Regions from separate parts of the Homo sapiens genome. Here region 2 is reported to be linked to region 1. The links are microRNA targets in miRTarBase. Many come from high-throughput screens and were not tested one by one. Region 1 holds a microRNA gene; the other region holds the end of a gene's coding sequence.

The links. Region 1 holds the annotated microRNA hsa-miR-4472 (GGUGGGGGGUGUUGUUUU, at 2,630-2,647, opposite strand). A microRNA usually pairs through its seed, bases 2 to 8, with sites in the 3' UTR of a target mRNA and lowers its output. Matches are read on the target gene's strand: a 7mer-m8 pairs with bases 2 to 8, a 7mer-A1 pairs with bases 2 to 7 and ends in A, and an 8mer does both.
Region 2: miRTarBase lists UBL5 as a target of hsa-miR-4472. Seed matches in the 3' UTR shown: 8mer at 247-254.

Annotation. Positions count from the first base shown.
Region 1 is chr8:142,174,829-142,179,042 of GRCh38, reverse strand. MIR4472-1 (microRNA 4472-1) reads right to left here and starts at 2,704; the gene lies at 2,625-2,704. RefSeq lists an enhancer at 4,036-4,214.
Region 2 is chr19:9,829,809-9,833,915 of GRCh38, forward strand. It overlaps UBL5 (ubiquitin like 5), which reads left to right. Exons shown (of 5, transcript NM_001048241.3): 5 at 157-307. The coding sequence ends at 200. Among named protein-coding and RNA genes, the nearest start is that of PIN1-DT, 3.2 kb to the right of the region's middle.

The sequences.
Region 1 (4,214 bases):
CGTACCTTCCCCGGGTTGCTGATCCCGGGGAATGCTCCTGCTTCTGGCGACACTTGTTGCCTTGTCTTACACAGAACCCCAAACCCAAAGACGCCCATGAGAGACACAAGCTCATTGCCATGGTGGGTTGTGGTGGGTTGAGGCAGGAGGCGTCGCTGGCACCAGCTGTGTGCTGCTGGCTGAGGCCTCACCGGGATCTGCTTCAGTACCCGAAGCTTCACCCTCAGACACACCTCTTGGTGAGGACAGCTCCTGAAGGCCCCCATGGCATGCGGGTCCCACATAGAACAGGTGGCCGCCCGTCTGCAGGAGGCCTGTGCAGGGTTTTCTCTACCTGGCCCAGTGGAGTTGCTTCCAGAGCAACTCAGCACCTCAGAGCTGCTCATCCTGCTTTAACAAGTGGGGAAACTGAGGCTTGGGAGTGAGAATTGCCCCAAGGCCTCACGGCTGGCAAGTGGCAGAGCTGGGGTGGGATCATCCCACCCTTGGACATGAAGTCTGGTTCTTTCCTCTGTAAAGGGGTGCAGTGTCAACTGCTGTCTGCATGGAAGTAGAGTCTGGATGCAATGGCCGCGGGGCTGGGGGGGACTCAGGTGAGGGGATACACTGGCTGGTGGGGGGGTGCCCAGGTGAGGGGATGCACTGGCTGGTGGTGGGGTGCCCAGGTGAGGAGATGCACTGGCCACAGTGGGACTCAGGTGAGGGGATGAACTGGCTGGTGCTGGGGGGTACTCAGATGAAGGGATGCACTGGCCCGGCCAGCTCAGGGCCCTCAGGTGAGCGGCCGCCCAGGCCTTCACACTTTGGGAGTGGCTGTTCCTTGGCCAAGGGGAATTCTCCTATTGAATCAGCCGTGAGTGCTCCTGTAGAATTGCGGACCCTGTGAGAGAATGTTTTTATCCAGAACAAATTGAGAGGCTCCCCACCACGTGCCTTTCCAGTCACTTCTCCCATTTCAGCCTCAGTTTCCCTCCCTGTAAAACGGGGCTGTTGGAAGGACGAGGGAGACCTGGGCCCGGAGCGGTGGTCGTGGTGGCTGCCCACGCTGTCTTCTCTGCGTGCACCTCCTCTCTGGAGGCCAGGCCCAGGGTCCTGCCTTCCTCCTCCTCCTTCCTCCTCCAACAGGGAGACTCCGCAGCGCCAGGCCGTGCCTCCTCCCAGGAGTTTCGTTCTTGTTCACTGTGGTACAAATGTCAGGGAAGAATTTAAATGAGGGAAACCGTCTCAGAGAGTGTGTTCTGGCAGGATTTCAGGACACTTGTAATTAAGGGTGCAGCGAGGAGGGACCGACCCCACAGCGAAGGGAGGGCTGGCGCCGGCAGGCGGGGCCCTCAGCTGCCTCTGCTTCCTCTCGGTGCCACCGTGACCCCAGCCTCCGGTCTGCGGCTGAGCTGCCCCTCTGAGCTCTGGAGCGGAAGTGGGGGTCTGATGGAGGGGGCTGGCCACGCAGTCCCCTCAGACCCTGCCCATCACTTGCCCCTCCCTGACCCCTCCAGACCCCCCTTGGGGTCTCTCTAGGCAGCCCTGCTAGAGGGGCCCACCTGTGCGCAGCCTTTGGCCATGGCCTCTGCTTGGCGGACCTGAATTCTGGAGCCCCTCCCACCCTGCTCCGGAGCGGTCGCCAGCGCCCCGGGCCCCTGTCCCTCCAGTGACAGCGGCTGTCTCTTCAGGGTCAGAGGGTCGGGCCCCCTACCTGCAGCAGCCTGTTCTCCCCAGGCCCAGGGGCAGCCTTGGAGGGGCATGGAGACCCAGCTCCGGAAACCCTGGGGGCCGGGAATGGGAAGGGGCAGGCCGGGAAAGGGATGTGGACATCTATTTAGCGCTTACTGCATGCTGCCCTGTGTTTGGCACGCATCGTCTCATTAATCCCTCAGTCTTGGGCGTGGCTCCTAGTCAACCCATCTTACAGGGGAGAAAATGGAGGCCCAGAGGGGCTTCAGGTACTGGTCCAAGGACACTCAGAGGCTGGGCAGGGTGGAAGGTCACTGACTGAATGCCTACTGTGTGCAAGGTTCTTCTGCTCTGGTTCATCGTTGGAGTCTGGCTCTGTCCCGGGGCTCAGGTGTGGAGCTTGCGGTCTTCCTCCAGCTCGTTCAGGGGCTGTGGTGAGTTTTGTGGTTTGGGGGTGGCTGGATGCTAGCCTCAATCTCGAGGGGCTCATGGTCTAGAGTGGATGACCGGCTGCCATAACACCCTGTGGGGATAGAAGTCAGGGAGGAGCCCAGGGTTCTAGGGTGTTCGTGGAGCAGAGAAGAGGGCCCGGCAGGCTGCCTGGAGGAGGTGAGCTCTGAGCAGAGTCCTGGAAGACCACAGGGACTGTGGGTAGAATGTTTATGGGTGTGCAGGGAGTGGGGAAAAGGACGGGGGCAGGGAGCCCGTGTTGGGGCCTGACCAGGGCTCCACCGCAGCAATTATGAGCAGCCGGGATTGGAATTCTGGACGGTCGCCTTCCAAAATCCCCCAGGTGCCGCAGCCCCACCTTCCAAAGAAGGAAATGAGAATCCGAGAAGGGCCGGGATTTGTCCAGATCAGGGACAGATCTGACCCGAGTTAAGATCTGAGTTGAGGCTCAAGGCTCTCCCTTGTGAAAATTAAATGAGATTTAAACCAACTCAGCCTTAAAAAAACAAAAACAACACCCCCCACCCTGCCCCTGAGCTGTCTTCAGCCCCATTAGGGAGAGTGAGAGAGCAAGGGTCTGCCAGTGAGGAGATGGGGCTCCGTGAATGTAATTAATCACTTTTCAATTAGTATTCAGGAGCTTTTGTCTGAGGACTTGAAGCAGGTTAGTTCCAGATTGCAGCGCCAGGGTTTTCGGATGCATTTTTATAAATGTTGTGAGCCGAAATAGAACGCTGGGAGCTGAGCAGGCAGCCCCAACCAAAGGGAACAGAAATGAAGCCCCACAATGAGAGAAGTGATTGGGAACGGGGGCGTCTCGCCTGACACTCTGCAAATTCCTGAGCCGCAGTGCAGGAAGGGCTGGGCCTGCAGCCTGGGAAGACTCTGGGATTCAGTCGGTGCTCCATAAACGCTCCTGGAGTGCTGAATGCTCCCCACAGGGAGATGGGTAGGGTATTCTTGGCGGCTCTCAGGGAAGGTTTGGGATTTCGGAAAGGCTGTTCTGAGGGTGCGGGAGCTGGTGGTCCCTGGCTGTCAACCACGTGCCAGGAACTGTGTGGGGTGATATTGACCACATCTCTTAAATCTCCAAGGATGGAGGGTCCCGTGAGTACCAGAGACGCAGGCACTGCTATCCCATTTCACAGATGGCAGGCTCAGGGTCCGGCGCCCTTCAGGGAGGGAGAGTTGATCCTCGGTGAGAAAGAGCATCCGGTGAGTGCCAGGCAGTGGGTCTGGCTGGAGGACAAGTGCCTGCCGGGAATCGGGGGCCACACACGTTCCACTCTATCCAGCTGGCTGTGAGATCCTGGGGACCTCCCCTGGCCTCTCTGGGCCTGGGCCTGTAACATGGGAGTAGCTAGGGGCCCCTGGAAGCACCAGAGCCAGAGCAGGTGCAGGGATCACCCATAGCCTCGCCCTGCAGAGCGAGCTCCCTGTGTCCAGGCATCCCTGCAGGTGCTGGGTGGCACTCTGCTGCCCGAGAGGACAGAAGCACTGCTTGGGTGGCACTCTGCTGTTGGAGGGGACAGAAGCACTGCCCAGGTGGCACTCTGGGCCAGGTCATGTCAAGAATCCCTCTCTGTCCTGAGACTCAGCTTCTCCAGGCATGATGCAAAAGGACAAACAAATAAGATGCACCCTCCACCCTGACCCCTGCGGATGGTTTCTCCACCCGTAGCCACCCCAGCTCCCCCTAGCCAGGTGGTCTGTCTGATACCACAGGGCCCCAGCACCAGGCTGGGGCTGTTTCTGTTCTTTTCCAGTGGTCGGGTAGCTGGGCCTGTGAGTTCAGGGGACGATGGCCATGGGGGATGTCATGGACTGAATTGTGTTCCCCAAGTTCACATGTTGAAGTCATAGCTCCCCCTAACTCAGAATGGGATGTTATTTGGAAATAGGGTCATTACAGATGTAATGAGTTCGGATGAGGTCACTAGGGTGGGCTCTAACCTAGTGTGACTGTGTTCTTATAAAAAAGGGCAATTTGGGGACAGGCATGTATGTAGAGAGATGCCATGGGAAGATGGAGGCAGAGGTAGGGGTGAGGCTTCCACGAGCTACCGAGTGACAAAGATGGCCTGCAAGGCCCA
Region 2 (4,107 bases), not on the chromosome of region 1:
GTAAAGTTTTGGTTCTCTCCAAATAAAAATGGCCTGGTCCAAAATGGGCTTCCTTAGCCCTGGGCTGAGACCTCAGGCCACCTGACCCGGCTGTGAATGGATGAGAGGGGTGGGGACGGAAGTCAGAGTCAGGATTCCTTAACACCTTTCCTTCAGATGAAATCCACGATGGGATGAACCTGGAGCTTTATTATCAATAGATGAGAATCCTCATCTTCCTGCCCCGCTTTCCTCTCCCATCCTCATCCCCCACACTGGGATAGATGCTTGTTTGTAAAAACTCACCTTAATAAAGACTTAGATGTTGCTTTGTTGTTGTCTCTGTATGACAGCTGTCTAGTGATGGGTGGATCAGTCGCTGTTTGGTCATCACTGCACCATCAGCATGCAGCTGCTAAAATAAGAGCTCTGATCAACTGGATCCATGAGGGCAGAGTAGACCAGCAGGCTGGGAGTCTGTGTGGGAGCCCAGAGAGAGCTCTGGGGTTTGCTGTGGGTGTCTGAAGGTCAAGAGACTCTGGGATTATTGTCACCCTAATAAACCAAAGAACCTCCGGCTAATGACAGTAGATGTAATTGTTAGGAATTCAGATTCTGAAATCACACAGACCATGTGTGGAATGTCAGCTCTGCCACCAAGCAGCTGAGTGACACTAGGCAAAATTTTTTAACCTCTGTAAGCCTTTACTTCCTTATCCACTGGAAATAATTGCGTTTACTTCATGTCTGCTTTCAATCGGCATATTGTGAGGAGGTATAAATGAGTTTAAAGCATGTTTAAACATCCACAGTTCCTGGCATTTTTTTTTTTTCTTTTTTTGAGACAGGATCTTGCTCTGTCACCCAGGCTGGAATGCAGTGGTATGTTCATAGCCCACTGCAGCCCTGAACTGGACTCAACACAGTCCTCCTGCATCAGCCTCCCAAGTAGCTGGGCAGTGTGTACCACCACGCCAGCTAATTTTAAAATTATTATTATTATTTATTTTATTTGAGACAGAGTCTCGCTCTGTCACCCAGGCTGGAGTGCAGTGGCACGATCTCAGCTCACTGCAACCTCTGCCTCCTGGGTTCAAGCAATTCTCCTGCCTCACCTGAGGCAGGAGACTGGGACTACAGGCGTGCCCCATGACACCAGTTAATTTTTGTATTTTTAGTAGAGATGGGGTTTCACCATGTTGGCCAGGCTGGTCTCAAACTGCTGACCTCAAGTGGTCCACCCTCCTCGGCCTCCCAAAGTGCTGGGATTACAGGCGTGAGCCACCGCGTCTGGCATTTTGAAATTTTTTGTACAGACAGGGTCTCCCCTATGTTGCCCAAAATAGTCTTGAACTCCTGACCTCAGGTGATCCTCCAGCCTTGGCCTCCCAAAGTACTGAGATTATAGGCACAAGCCATCATGCCTGGCCCTAGCACTTCTTTTCAAGACAAAACGTGATAGTAGACAGTGAGGCAGTGTGGCACTATAAGTGTGGCTACATGATCCCAGCCTCAAGAGTCAGACCGACTAGATTTGAATTTTGATTGATCCTTAGCAGTGGGATTTCAGCCTCTGCGACCCTCAGTTTCATCCTCTAAAAATGAGCACTACAGTGGCACCCACATCTCAATGAGACCACGCAATTAGAATAGCAGGATGCCTGGCACATAATGTTATTTGCTGTATTCTTCCTCTAGGTGTGAGTAGACAGGAGACCAACTGTCCCTCTGTTCCCCTGGCCACAGTTCTTTGTGTCAACCTTGCTCCTGTCCTGTTTTATTTTTTAAATTAAAAAAATTTTTTTTTTGAGATGGAGTTTCACACTTGTTGCCCAGGCTGGAGTGCAATGGCATGATCTCAGCTCACTGTAAACCCCGCCTCCTGGGTTCATGTGATTTTTTTGCCTCAGCCTCCTGAGTAGCTGGAATTACAGGTGCATGCCACCACACCCAGCTAATTTTTTTTAGTAGAGACAGGGTTTCACCATGTTACCCATGATGGTCTTGATTTCCTGACTTCATGATCCGTTCACCTCAGCTTCCCAAATTGCTGGGATTACAGGTGTCAGCCACTGCGCCCGGCCCTGAATTTCTTATTTCTTATACCACTCCTCCCACCAGTGGTGGGCATTAATACATTTGAGTGACTCTAGAAACTTTCTGGAATAACCTAGAGTTTTTATCATACGGGGATAATTATATGTCCCGTAATATTTATATGACATTCCATAGTTTGCTTTTCTGTGCTTTTTTTTAATTATTATTTTTTATTATTATTTTTTGAGATGGAGTTTTGCTCTTTTTGCCCAGGCTAGAGTGCAATGGTGCAATCTCGGCTCACTGCAACCTCTGCCTCCCGGGTTCAAGCGATTCTCCTGCCTCAGCCTCCCAAGTAGCTGGGACTACAGGCACGAGCCACCACACCTGGCTAATTTTTTGTATTTCCAGCAGAGACAAGGTTTCACCATGTTGGCCAGGCTGGTCTCAAACACCTGAGCTCAAGTGATCCGCCCGCCTCAGCCTCCCAAGGTGCTGGGATTATAGGTGTGAGCCGTTGGGCCAGCCATGATTTAGCAATTTTGAAACTACTTTTGTGTGTGTGGGTGTGGGCACATGGGCCCATGTAATACACACAAACAGGGTTGAACAAATAAGTAAACTTGTAGATAATGAGAGCTGGGTGTCTCACTGTGGAGAAGGAAGTTACAAATAAAACAGGAGATGGGAATGCTTAAAATGAACCTTGTAGGACTGGATTTGGAGGCATCAGTCTGAATTCATGGTTTTCGTTTAACAGATATATTGATACATATAGATGTGTGTATACATATGTATATTTCCTTGCTCTATCCACTTAGAGGGACCAGAAACAGTGACACTCCAGGAACAGTGAGCACCCATCCTGGAACATAAAAACACTAGTGGGAAAACAGGATTGGGGGGAATTTGTGGTTTAGTTAATAGTATTATATTGATATTGGTTTCTTAGTGTTGATAATTATATTATAGCAGGGTTTCTAAGCTTTGGCATTGTTGACTTTTTTGGGTTGGATTTTTTTTTTTTTTTTTTTTTTTTGAGACAGGCTGGAGTGCAGTGGCACGATCTTGGCTCACTGAAAGCTCCACTCCAGGGGTTCAAGCAATTCTCCGCCTCAGCCTCCCGAGTAGCTGGGATTACATGCGCCCGCCACCACACCTAATTTTCGTATTTTTAGTAGAGATGGGTTTTCACCATCTTGGCCAGGCTGGTCTTGAACTCCTGACCTCTTGATCCACCCACCTTGGCCTCCCAAAGTGGTGGGATTACAGGCGTGAGCCACCGCACCCAGCCTTTTATTTTTATTTATTTATTTATTTTTTGAGACAGAGTCTCCCTCTGTCACCCAGGCTAGAGTGCTGTGGCAAGATTATGGCTAATTGCAGCCTCTTAACTCCTAGACTCAAGAGATCCTCCCACCTCAGCCTCCCAAGTAGCTGGGATTACAGGCACGTGCCACCACACCCAGTGAATTATTTTTGTAGAGATAGGGTCTTGCCATGTTGCCCAGGCTGGTCCCCAACTCTGGGCTCAAGCGATCCTCCTGCCTTGGGCTCCCAAAGCCCTGGATTACAGGTGTGAGCCACCACACTCAGCCCTTGGATTGGATAATTCTTTTGGTGGGGGCTGTGCCTTGAAGGATGTTAGCAGCATCCTTGGCATCTAATACTAAATGCCAGTAGCCAGTAGTATCTCCTGTTCCAAAATGTCTGAAGGTGTTGTAACAACCAAAAATGTATCAAGATGTTGCCAAATGTCCCTTGGGAAACAAAATCGCTACTGGTTGAGAATTCTGTTCTATTGTTTATTTAAGACGCTAATATTAGGGAAGTTTGGGTGAAGGGTACATGAAAACCCTACTGTTTTTGTAACTGCCCATGTCTAAAATTATCTTTATAAAAAGTATCTTTTTAATATTATGCTAATACTTGTAAAAAATGTTCTATTAAAACTTAAACTTTTTTTGTTTTTTGAGATGGAGTCTCGCTCTGTCACCTACGCTGGAGTGCAGTGGTGCGATCTCGGCTCACTGCAACCTCCGCCTTCCAGGTTCAAGTAATTCTCCTGTCTCAACCACCCGAGTAGCTGGA